Homo sapiens: one gene and its partners. The protein of the gene in region 1 interacts with the protein of each later gene in a pairwise test. Each region holds a gene or a part of one and is shown on either strand. Other genes may lie near its edges.

Region 1 (4,303 bases):
GAACGTGCTCAAGAAAATTTGTTGAAAGACACCCCAATGAGAGAAGAATGGCTGTTTCCAGCCTTCCGGGCCCCTCAGCTTTGGGCTCCTGCAGGGCCCCAGAACCGTGGGATCACGGCCACGAGGAGAGGCCCCGAGGCCAGGACTTCCTCTAATGGACACAGGGCCTTTGAGCACCGGGTGACTGGGGCCCCACTCCCCAGCAGCCATATGTGTTTGCGAGCGTTTTCAGTCGGTCCGCATCCACCCGGTCCCTTCAGCCAGAACCCTAGGAGCCCCGCCCCGTCCTCCCGGGGCTCCTTTCTCACCCGCGTCCCTGCCGCGGTGGATACGCACCCCTCAGGCTGGCTGCCCAGCGCGGTTTCCACGCCCAATCTGCCGCGACCCCATCACTCCACCGCACCTACCCCTGACTCCTGCTTGTCCTGCAGCCTGGGCTCCTCCCTCCGCTGGCCAAGTCACGCCAAGCAGTTTGCGGTTACAGGACGGGTGGGGGCCTCTGCATATGTGCAGAGTACGGAGGGCCCAGGGACGCGAGGCTCCCCGATGGGCAACCTCCCCTGCCTTTGCTTTTCCCCAGAGCCCCCTCCTGGCCTGCGTTCGGCATCTTCTCGGGTCGTCATCGCCCTCTGCGGTGCCTGCGCTCGGGGTGAGGGTTTTTGTCGGCTTTTGTTACATCACCGATGTAACAGTGCCTGGACGTAGTAGGTGCTCAATAAATATGTTGTTGAATGCGCTTCAGTCTCCCCGAATGCTTGTCCCTTCCGGGCGCTCTCATCGCTCTCCTACCTTCCCCGCTACACAGCTCGAAGGTCCCCTCCTCCGGGAAGCTCACCCTGTCCCACTTGCCAGGAAGAATCAAGCAAATTTTCTGAGTGAGACACCTTGTCCTCACTCAGGCGTCCTGCAGGCGGCTTCAGCGAGTTGTTGGGGCAGATGCGCCGGGAGCTCCCGAGGGCAGGGACGGCGTCTTATTTCTCTTTTTAAGTCCACAGGGCTTGCACAATAGATGCCCAAAAAATGAGAGTGAATTTAGAATGAGTGACCGAGTGGCTGAAGATTGCCTCCTTCCTTTCCCAGTCTGTCGGTTACTTACCCTGTGACAAGCCCTTGGGACGGGCAGTCGCCCCTCTCTGGCCTATGACTGCTGGCTGCCCCCACTGACACCTTATACCCTTGATCTGATCATAAATAAGAAGCAGCCCGGGGACCTCGAGACTGAAACTGATTTAGAGACTTCTGGGAGCTTTTTTCACTTCCCTCCTCCCATCCGGCCAGGACAGATCCCCGCCCAGAAAGGGGCTGTTGACTGCAGCGGGCTGCGCGCCCAGAACTGGGACTGGGATCGCGGCGGGGCGGGGCGGGCGCGGGCCCAGGGAGAGGCGGGGCCGGGGGCGGGGCGGGCACGGGGCCCCGGCCGGGAGGTGAGCGCAGCTGTCGTTCAGCTTGTGGGTAGCACTCGGGCCGAGCCATGCAGGCGGCGCGCGTGGACTACATCGCTCCCTGGTGGGTCGTGTGGCTGCACAGCGTCCCGCACGTCGGCCTGCGCCTGCAGCCCGTGAACAGCACCTTCAGCCCCGGCGACGAGAGTTACCAGGAGGTAAGTTTACGCCGCCCCAGACCGCAGCCACGCGCGCCCCAAGTCCCCGCACTACCCCCTCTCCCCTCGAGAGCCTGCACTTTCCCACGTGCCTCTCAGACCCCTTCTCTCCCCGCGCAGCCCTTTCCCGTCTCCCCTCTCCCCTTTTCCCCCACCCTCCCAGGCCCGTGGCCCGCGTCCCCTCCTGTCTGGGAACCTGGGGGCCGGGAAAACTGAAGAGATCAGAGTGAAGCGAGCGTGGGGAAGGGGAGGAAGGGCGCAAGACCGCCTGCGGGGTGAGGGGCTGAACGCTGAGCGGGCAGGGCGGCGCGGGGGAGGGGTAAGGACAGGGGCATTCGTCTCGGGGTAATCCTGGCGCGCGAGGTGCGGGGATGCTGAGGGGTGCCCCGAAGTTTTCGACCGTCTGAGATTCCAAGATGGGGCGCTCTCTTTCCGGGGCTGAGTGGCCTAGGAAAGTTTGGCAGAAACTGAGTAGAGTCTCCCGAGTCGGTCTTCGCAGCACCCCTCCTCCCCAGCCCCGGCCTGCAGGGTGGGAGTCTCAGCTGGAAGGCTGCAGGGCTTGGGGAAGCGGTGTGGGTCACTTCCCCTCTAGCGCAGAGAACCCACAGCTGCTTGCGCTTGTTCCAGGGAAGGAAGGTGGCCTCCGTCAGCCCATCTCACACTGTTGTCCTGAGGACCCCCTTGCATTGACAGTCAGCTTCTCTGTGTCCCCTGGTCCTAGACTGGCCCATTCCTGTTCCCCCACGCCCCTCTCTCTACCTCACACCTTTAAGCCCTGAATTTCTGGCCTAGGGCAGTCACTCCCGGCTTCCCCGCCCTTTCCCTACTCTGCTGACCCTTGGCAGGATTCTGCACCCCACAAACAGGGCCAGGGCTCCCCAGACCTCCCTGCCCAGACAAACAAAGCTGCAGAATCTCCCAGCCCGTCTCAGGTCTGGTCACGCCTGCTCTGGCCCCGGGAGCCCACCTGTATCAGTTCCTTGTGTTGGGTCAAAGATTCTGGGGCCAGTGGACCAGGATGAGGTCCATTTATTCAGAGCCAGGCGCCCATCTCAGGACTTTGGCCCCCGGCGGCCTCTCCCTGTGTCAAGTTCTCCAGATATGGGACAGATCAGGGCAAAGCAGGGCCTCTTGGAGGGAATCCTGATCCAGTGTGAGGTGCCCAAGCGCCAGTGACAGGGAGTCTAATAATAACCCCTGACGACCCGGCTGCCATCAGGCCCAGGCAGATGGTGCCTGCCCTACCAGAGGGAGGGGAGCATCAGGACCCCTTCCTGGGGTTCAGTGGGCACTCAGGAGCAAGACGGCAGTCGGTGGACCCACCCCCCTCCCCCAGAGCCCAGCCTGTGGGAGTCTGTGTTCCCTGAGAATGTGGCTGCCTGGGGATAGCTCCAGGGAATCTTCCTCTCCCAGAGAATGCATGAAAAGAGGCGGATATGATTTCAGAAACAGCCGTGTGTGTGTGTGTGTGTGTGTGTGTGTGTGTGTCCCCATCCCAAACCCTGTGCCCCACATCCCACACCCGGGGTCTCCAGCCATAGTTTTCTCCTCTCCACTGGAGGAAATCTAAACTTTTCATTGGGTCAAGAAGACCCCTAGGTGGGGGTAGGGATGGTAAGGGGACTCCCTCACCCTGATGGCCCCAGAGACAGTTCCTATCAGCCCAACAGCTGTGGCTGGTGGATCCTGGGCCTGCCCACAGCCCCCTCAGTCCCATGGGCAGGTGGCAGTTGAGCCAGATGAACCTACCTCCAGCCTCTGCCCCTCCTCCCAGGATTCTGGCCCCGGCTCACTTTGTGCTGGGCATCAAATGGTTCCAGAGGGTGTCCCTTCCCATCGGCCACTGCTCCTGGGCAGCTGACACCAGCCCTGCCCACTGGCTCCTGGTCCCGCTCACCCCCTCACCACCACTCAGATCGCTGAGTAGGAGATGAGCGTGGTGGGCCAGGACCGGAAGTCTGGCTCTGGGTGTTATTTAAGGTGGCTCCTGTTTTTGGTAAGTTCCCCTGTTGTGACCACAGGTCTCTCCTGGATGTCTTCTTTCCTCCTGAGCACCAGTCACTAACAGAGTCAGGTGGACCGTCGGTCATCCCAGTCTTCAGCAAGCTTGACTGGAGCAAGTGCTATGCCAGGCGTGGGGTGACCGTGGTAACCAAGGCAGCAGGTCTTCAGGAGAAATTGCTGGGGATTTTCTGCGGCTGGGCTCTGGGCGCAGTGCTATGGCAGACACCAAGCAGTTTGAGGTGGGGCTCTGCCCTCCAGTTGGCTGGGGTGGATTCCCAGTTCTTTCCATGTGTGACCACGGGTAGGTGTCTTAACCTCTCTGAGCCTTGTTCCCTTCATCTGCAAGAATTAGATGAGATATTCCACATATCATGCCTAGTACAGAGAGTCCCATAGCACATAACAGGAGCCAGTGACACAGATCATTCAATGGAGTGGCTGAGAGGTTCAGGAGTGTGTCTCAGGACAGTACCCTGCTGGGGAATGGAGAGGAAGGAGATCTCTTCCACAGACTCTGATTGGGGGAGACTGAACAAAACGCCTGCAGAAAGGGCTTCAGCTCATGCCCCACATGTTCAAATGCACAGTGCTGGCTGTGTGGGGTGTGGGGGGTGGGTGCGTGTGCATCAGAGACTAAGCAAGGATGGAAACAGGCAGGTGCTGGCCTTAGGATGTGGGTGGTGCGGGGGATCTCAAAGG
Region 2 (3,647 bases), on another chromosome or scaffold:
GCCAACATGCATGCGGACAACATCAGAGGTGGTGAAGGCACTGCGGACATTCCTCTCAGGCTTGGCAATAATGATGTACATCTTGGGAGTGAACATGCACCCCAGAGCCACTGTTACACTGAGACTCACTGCAAAGCAAGTTGTGATGATCTTGTAGTTGCTCCCAAAGTAAATGGGCACAAAAGCTAGCCAGATGATACAGGTGGTGTACATGGTGAACGCGATATATTTGGCCTCGTTGAAGTTGGCGGGCACGTTGCGGGTCTTGAAGGCATAGTAGGTACAGCTCATGATGAGGAGTCCATTGTAGCCCAAAGGGGCCACCACACCCAGGTTGCTGGTATTGCAGATAAGGTAGACTTCCTTGATACTTGGGTAGGACAGAATGGGCATAGGGGGTTCCATGATGATCAGGGTTACCACCAGGGTTAGTTGCACACTAATCAGAATTGAGGCAATGATCACCTGAGCCCAGGCACTCATGAACCTGGGCTTCCGGGTGCAGATCTTCTTCTTGCTGCCAGCCAGGATGCGTGCAATACGATTGGTTTTAGTCACTAAAGCAGAGTAGCACATCGCAGAGGAGAGGCCAACCAAGAGGCGCTGGAGGTAGCAGGAGGTGGTAGTAGGTTTGGCAATGAGAGTGAATGGGCACACATAACCAAGGAAGATGCCAGCTAGGATGATGTAGCAGAGCTCCCGACTGGAGGATTTGACCACTGGTGTGTCCCGGTACAGTACAAAGATTAGGGTGACAAACAAGGTAACAAGGATTCCCAGGCATGAAAAGGCGATGGCTATAATGGATTCGATGTTGCTCCACTCAAGATAGCGCACAGGAATGGGCTCACAGCCTGTGATGAGAAAAATCATTTGAGCATGAATCCAAGGTTTCTGCTAGGAATAACAACTTGCCTATTAATTACCAGAGACACAGTCATCTTTGCATCCTTCATGATTTACAGCATTTAATGCTTTTTTAAAAATGCACACTATTACACAAATAAAGATACATCATTGTCTTACCTGGACAATTATGTCCCCAAACTTAATCTTATTACAAGCCTAATGTGACATACTTGAACCTATAAAAATGATCTTTTCTTCCAACATCAGCATTATAAATAGATGTCATTCTGTGAATGGGACTCGGTTCTACATGTTCAGAAAAAGAAAACACCCAAATAAAACTTTATTTCCAGTGAGGGTTAAATGGTGATAATGGGATAGAATAAATTATTAAGAAATAAACTAACAAAACTTTTCTTTTGATGCAGCCATTGTCTGTAGGCAAGTCCAGCTCATAGACAAGTCGTTTTTGGCCAGCAGAGTGTTTTCAATGTAAATTTCATGGACTTCTTTAGAAGAATCTGCATTCTCCTGTTTCCTGCATAACTCTATATTATACCTTAAATCTCACTCTTCTCATGAATCATGAATGATCTGTATCTGAAACCTGAGGGCCTTTGAGTTAGTAACCTCTAGTGGACATATCCAGGAAGAATGAAATCTCCCCTAACCCATCTCTTGAAAGGAAAGACTAGAATTTGTTCCTAAATTCCTGGCTTATCTTTTCCTTCTAGATGGAGAATAAAATGTATTTTGTATTTCAGAGTGAGAGAAAAATTTGTCAGGCTCTGGGACAACCCCTTCACAGAATTTTGTAATCACAAAATATTTGGTCTGGGCCAATATTTCCCAAATTGTGAGAATAAAGTCATTTCCATAAATTTAGGAAAAGACTCATTGTTCTGTAGCCATGGCAACAAGGAACCACCAGAACCAGTGCTAAACCTGTCAGTCAATCAACAACTTGCCTCAGTGAACATGTGTTTGGATGCCAAGCAAGCACTGTCAGCCCTTACTTCTGATAATCACTCAGGCAGGATCAGAATCACTTCAATAAATGAGTGCCAACTAATCAACAGTCTCATGTGAGTAATCGTATTGCTACAGGTGATGTCAACCAGCTCTCAGAAGCTGCAAGGTTTTCAATCCCTAAACTCCACACTTTCTAAAAACTCCATATAAAATGAATAGTCTTCTGCTCAGAGAAAATGTATCTGCCTAGCATAACTATCCCTTACTATAGTAAGCAATTTGTTTAGCTTTTGTGCTTTTTTTTTTTTTTTTTTTTTCTTTTTTTTTTGAGACGGGGTCTCACTCTGTTGCCCAGGCTGGAGTGCAGTGGCGCAATCTCAGCTCACTGCAAGCTCCGCCTCCTGGATTCACGCCATTCTCCTGCCTCAGTCTCCCGAGTAGCTGGGGCTACAGGCACCCGCCACCATGCCCGGCTAATTTTTTGTATTTTTACTAGAGACGGGGTTTCACTGTGTTAGCCAGGATGTTCTCGATCTCCTGATCAGCCTGCCTCGGCCTCCCAAAGTGCTGGGACTACAGGCATGAGCCACCACACCCAGCCAGCTTTTGTGCTTTTTAAAAAAAATTTTATGTATTTAGTCTCACCATGTTTCATATTTCTAGAGGCTTCACCAAGATAATTTTGAAGACTCCTTATTTGATAACATTCCAGGAGATGCTCTGATCAACAGGGTCACTCACTGGACCCCCTCGTGCCCGCATTCTGTCCTTCCCATGTACTAGCATGAGAGTCATTCTCAATAATTTTCTCACTCTGGCTAATTTTACTGAGCTCTTGTTGCTGAATTTATGTAGTTGTCCTAGGATTTGTAATCATGTAGGTCTTTATATAGAAGGCACTTAAACTTAGGTCTTTGTGTAAGGTTATTTCACCTGTATCTTTATATATTAAGTCATATAACCTTTGGTTTTGAAATGCACCATTTGGTAATTAGACATAAGCTTTTTATTATGTCAATAAATAGTTCACTTTAGAGATACACAATTTGATAAATATTTTTTTCCATATCTGTTTATTCCCTTGCTGTTTCTTTGCTTTTGCTGTTATTTACATACATACACAAAGTCTTATTTTATGGGTCTTTTTTGTTTGTGTGTTTGTTTCGTTTTGAACCATATTTTTCTGTTTTGTTTGTGTGTTTGTTTTGTTTTGAATCACCTTTTTCTGTTGACAATATAAGGGATAGTTCATAAACATTAGAGGAACATGTAAGCCTAAGAAGTGTCCAATCCAAGCTGGCCCTGAGTGCTAATGTTTGGAGCTCCTTTAAATTGATAACCAATTTGCCAAAAGTGGTAGGTCACTCAGCCTTAGGTTTCTTAGAAAACCTTTACAAGAATACTTCCCGTGTTGTCAACTTATGAAAGATCACTTTATTTTAGTGATTGTGTGTTGCCTTCCTACACTCCGTTTGCTTTGGGAATCTAAGACACCATTGGCAAGCACACACTTTTGACAGAACTTAGTGGCCTCTCTTCCTTGTGTATCAGAGATTTGTCTCTGTCTAAATACAAACCTTTTTCTGGAAGAACTTATTCTTCCTATATAAAGTCACATACTAATCCTAATTTTATTTTTGTTTTCCCAATGCAGGCAAGACAGATGATACATAGATGATAAATATATATATATAGACGATAGATAGATAGATAGATAGATAGATAGATAGATGATGGATAGGTAGGAAAATAGATATTTAAAATAACATTGGCCATATGGGAACTAATTTATGATGAAATCAATAAATTAAAATATTTACAAGGAG
Region 3 (3,647 bases), on another chromosome or scaffold:
CTCAGTATTTTCTCCAAAGTTGCTCCAACAGTAACCTTGTGGACAGAATTTGAATAGGATAAATGCAATTGACAGCTACTATATGGGCAGACACCTCTACTTCATATGCTTTATTATAAAGCTTATTTTGTAAGTTGCATTTTGCTTATATTGCTTTTGGCTTCATCTATCTTTTAAGGAGCAATGAGACAGAAGATCCTTCCCCACACTCCATCCACATACACAGACATTCAAAGTAGAGACTGTAGCTATATTATTAGACAAGCAAAATGTTGAGGGGCCTCTGCAAAAATGCAGTTTTGGATCTGAATCTAAAACAACGTCCTAGGTAGAGGTTGCAGTGAGCCAATATTGTGCCATTGCACTCCAGCCTGGGCCACAGAGCAAAACTCTGTCTCAAAAAACAAAACAAAATAAAACAAAGTCCCACATGACTTTAAGAGCATTCATAACTGAATTTCTGCCTTGGGACCTTCATTTCTATATAACCCCTATCTGGGATTCAAAGTTCCGCCTGGGGCAGATGCGGCTCAGCTGATGAGTTGTCCTGACTGTTGAGGAACTCACTGGGAGCCACCAGCTTCAGCTCTCGGTTCTCAGCTCCAAGGAGATTCTTAGCCAGGCATCGCACGGCGATGGTCTCCTCCACTTTGGCGAAAGTCACACGGCCCTCCACGGTACTCCTGTCTCGGGAGTGGATCTCCGTGATGATGTTTGAGACATTGTTGGCCAAAATAGTCCAGGAAGTTTCATTATTACATCTAGAGAGAAAAAGGGCCTAAGTATAGGGCCAATTCCTGAGAGTCATGGCAATGAGTGGAGCCACGGGAACACTCTAAGATGGCAAGGAGTTGGGACCTTGTCTGCATTTCGGGGCAATACACACTGATTTATTTTACATGCAGATGAACATTAAAACTTGTCTGCATGTGCTGAAGAGGGAATAACTCACACATGAACAACTGAAAGCTAAGTGTTTACATAGCAGGCAGAGATAATCAAGTTTAATAAAATATGACTACCATTCCCCAATCTTGAACCTATGAGCAAACTGAACAGTTCAACTTCAACCATATTTAATGATCTCAATCTCCCACCCCTTCAAAAAGGCCTGGAGCCCTCCCTTCTCAACACTCACACTGGGAAGAGCCCCTAGGGTGTCACTAGGGTTGCGATGATCCTCAGATTGAGTTATAAGACCTAGAATCCTGCTCCACACTGGAATCTACTAGAAACCCCAGTCAACATCCAAGTCTGTTCTTAGCCCTAGAAGTTAAGATGAGGAGTCTCTGTCTAGAGGAAGAAACAACTGAGGCTTCTGAACACAACCAGTTACCATGGATGAAGTGTAAACACATTGCTCATGTGCCCATTTAAGAAGGCTGAGGACTCGGGGGAGGGAGGAGGGAATGGCGAATTAACCCACCAAACAGCAGGTGGGCAGATAAGGGACTAAGCAGTCACATTTATGTTTACATGCAGTCCGACTACCAAACAAAGTTCACCAAATAAGATATGTGAGCCAGGGTAGTAAAAATCTTCTTAGAACAGTGGTTCTTAAAATTCACTCTTGTTTTTAGATTGGAGACATTTTGAAGGTCTAATGAGAGCCCTGGACCTTCTTCTCACAGCTATTCATGACAAAAGATACACACCCTGAAGCTATCACACCCAAAACCCTATCTTATAGTCAATAAGTAAAATGTATTTGACATCATTTGTGTCAAGGGAGAAATATTCTGACCACGAAAGAAGAAGACACATCTGTTTTCCATACTTCTTAATATCTTTGCATATCATCCACTCAATATCAGGAAGCGGCGTGCCTTCAGCTGTGCACCTCACCGTCTGTCCCCCAGTTGAGCCATGGTGATCATCGACCAAGTCCAGAATGGATGAAGGAACTGCAAGAGGCAGAAAGAAGTCAGAATGGAATAGCTCGTGTCCCAGAACATATGAGACTACAAAGTGGAATATGAGTTCACAACTCATCTACATGGCATTCAAAACACTCCGGAGGGGCTGAAACCAGTTGTACAAGTAACACTCCAGTTTAGACAGACCCACATGGTTAGCAGCATTTTCACAGTTTTGGTGTTTTGAGATTTATCCCTGTGATGTTTTTAACCTGGAGTGAAGAAAGTGAAAAGTCCATGGTTGTGATGCCTCACACATGTAGCCCCAGCTACTTGGGAGGCTGAGGTGGAAGAGAAACACTTGAGCCCAGGAGTTTGAGGCAAGCCTGGGCAACATGGTGAGAAGAAAAATGGGAAGGGAAGGGAAGGGGAGGGGAGGGGGGGAGGGGGGAGGGGAGGGGGAGGGGAGGGGGGAGGGGAGGGGAGAATGAAGGAAGGAAGGAAGGAGAGAAAGGAAAAGAGAGAGTGAGGGAAGAGGGAAGGAAGGAAGAAAGGAAAGAAGGAAGGAAGGAAAAGGGAGAACAAGGGAGGGAGGGAGGGAGGAAAAGGAAGGAAGGAAGGAGAGAAAGGCAAAGAAAAGAGAGAGTGAGGGAGGGAGGAAGGAAGGAAGGAAGGAGAGAAAGGAAAAGAAAAGAGTGAGTGAGGAAGGAAGGAAGGAAAGAAAAAGAGAAAGGAAAGGAAAAGAGAGAACAAAGGAGGGAGGGAAGAAGGAAGCAAGGAAGGAAGGAAGGAGAGAAAGGAAAAAGGGAAGAGGGAAGGAAGGAGAGAAAGGAAAGGAAAAGAGATAACAAGGGAGGGAGAGAAGAAGGAAGGAAGGAAGGAAGGGAGGGAGGGAAAGAGAGAGAGAAAGTCCCTTGGTTATTTGGCTTGAAAGGCAAGGAGGTTCTTAAAATTATATTATAGCTTAGGATTCAACTAATGGATTCAGCTAAAGTATAATCTAAAGCAGCATTTACCAAAATGCATCTGTGGTATGTTATTAGGTTTTAAAGATTCTTTTCTAAATCTGTGGTCAAATAAATTAGATATACGGTGTTGCTTGTATCACAGGTTTTACTGTGAGGATCACATGAGCGCACCTCAGACAGCACCTGGCTCATGGCTGGGACTCTGGATAGGTGCTGAGCCTGAATGTAAACAGACTTGGGCACTCCCTTCTGGTAAGGACCACTGTACAATGTCTATAAGGAAAACTTGTAGCAAAACTCTCCAGAACAATCTAAGGTCATCTGCTTCTCTCTTCTCAGATTGAGAAGCAGGTGCTAAGTAAGCTGGTGGAGGCCAGGTGCAGTGGCTCACACCTGTAATCCCAGTACTTTGAGAGGCCAAGGTGGGAAGATAGCTTGAACCCAGGAGACCAGCCTGAGCAACATGGCAAGACTCCATCTCTACAAAAATAAAGCTAGCTGGTGGAGCCTAGGGATTCCTCGCCTACTCTAGAGTAACCCAGAACCTCCCAGAAATACCTGAATTCATGAGTCCAGCAGAGGTATTCCCGATATGTGACATATGCAGACACTGCTTCTCCCCTAAGTGCTGCTTTTCTTCCATGACCGGGGAGAAAAGTGCCAGGCTTTCCTTGGAAGACACTCATCTACAGAGCTAGCATTATCTTTATACTCCCTTTACATACCTTGAGTTAACAGTTCAAAAGTATAGCTCTTCACAGCATCTTCATTTTGAGCTACAATAGTATAATGGCCACTGTCTTCTTCCTTAGCACGGATCAGC

Evidence for each region.
Region 2: the proteins of TTYH2 (region 1) and GRM1 come close enough for resonance energy transfer, tested with the Homo sapiens proteins (one large-scale study listed by BioGRID).
Region 3: the proteins of TTYH2 (region 1) and PDGFRA come close enough for resonance energy transfer, tested with the Homo sapiens proteins (one large-scale study listed by BioGRID).

What each region holds. Positions count from the first base shown.
Region 1 is NC_000017.11:74,212,117-74,216,419, forward strand, and holds the start of TTYH2 (protein tweety homolog 2), read left to right. Parts: upstream 1-1,454; 5' UTR 1,455-1,471; coding exon 1,472-1,600; intron 1,601-3,513; exon of another isoform or gene 3,514-3,530; coding exon of another isoform or gene 3,531-3,596; intron 3,597-4,303. UniProt on the Homo sapiens protein: Calcium-independent, swelling-dependent volume-regulated anion channel (VRAC-swell) which plays a pivotal role in the process of regulatory volume decrease (RVD) in the brain through the efflux of anions like chloride and organic osmolytes like glutamate.
Region 2 is NC_000006.12:146,395,976-146,399,622, reverse strand, and holds part of GRM1 (metabotropic glutamate receptor 1 isoform alpha precursor), read right to left. Parts: intron 855-3,647; coding exon 1-854. UniProt on the Homo sapiens protein: G-protein coupled receptor for glutamate. Ligand binding causes a conformation change that triggers signaling via guanine nucleotide-binding proteins (G proteins) and modulates the activity of down-stream effectors.
Region 3 is NC_000004.12:54,270,651-54,274,297, reverse strand, and holds part of PDGFRA (platelet-derived growth factor receptor alpha isoform 1 precursor), read right to left. Parts: coding exon 3,550-3,647; intron 1,905-3,549; coding exon 1,778-1,904; intron 762-1,777; coding exon 568-761; intron 1-567. UniProt on the Homo sapiens protein: Tyrosine-protein kinase that acts as a cell-surface receptor for PDGFA, PDGFB and PDGFC and plays an essential role in the regulation of embryonic development, cell proliferation, survival and chemotaxis.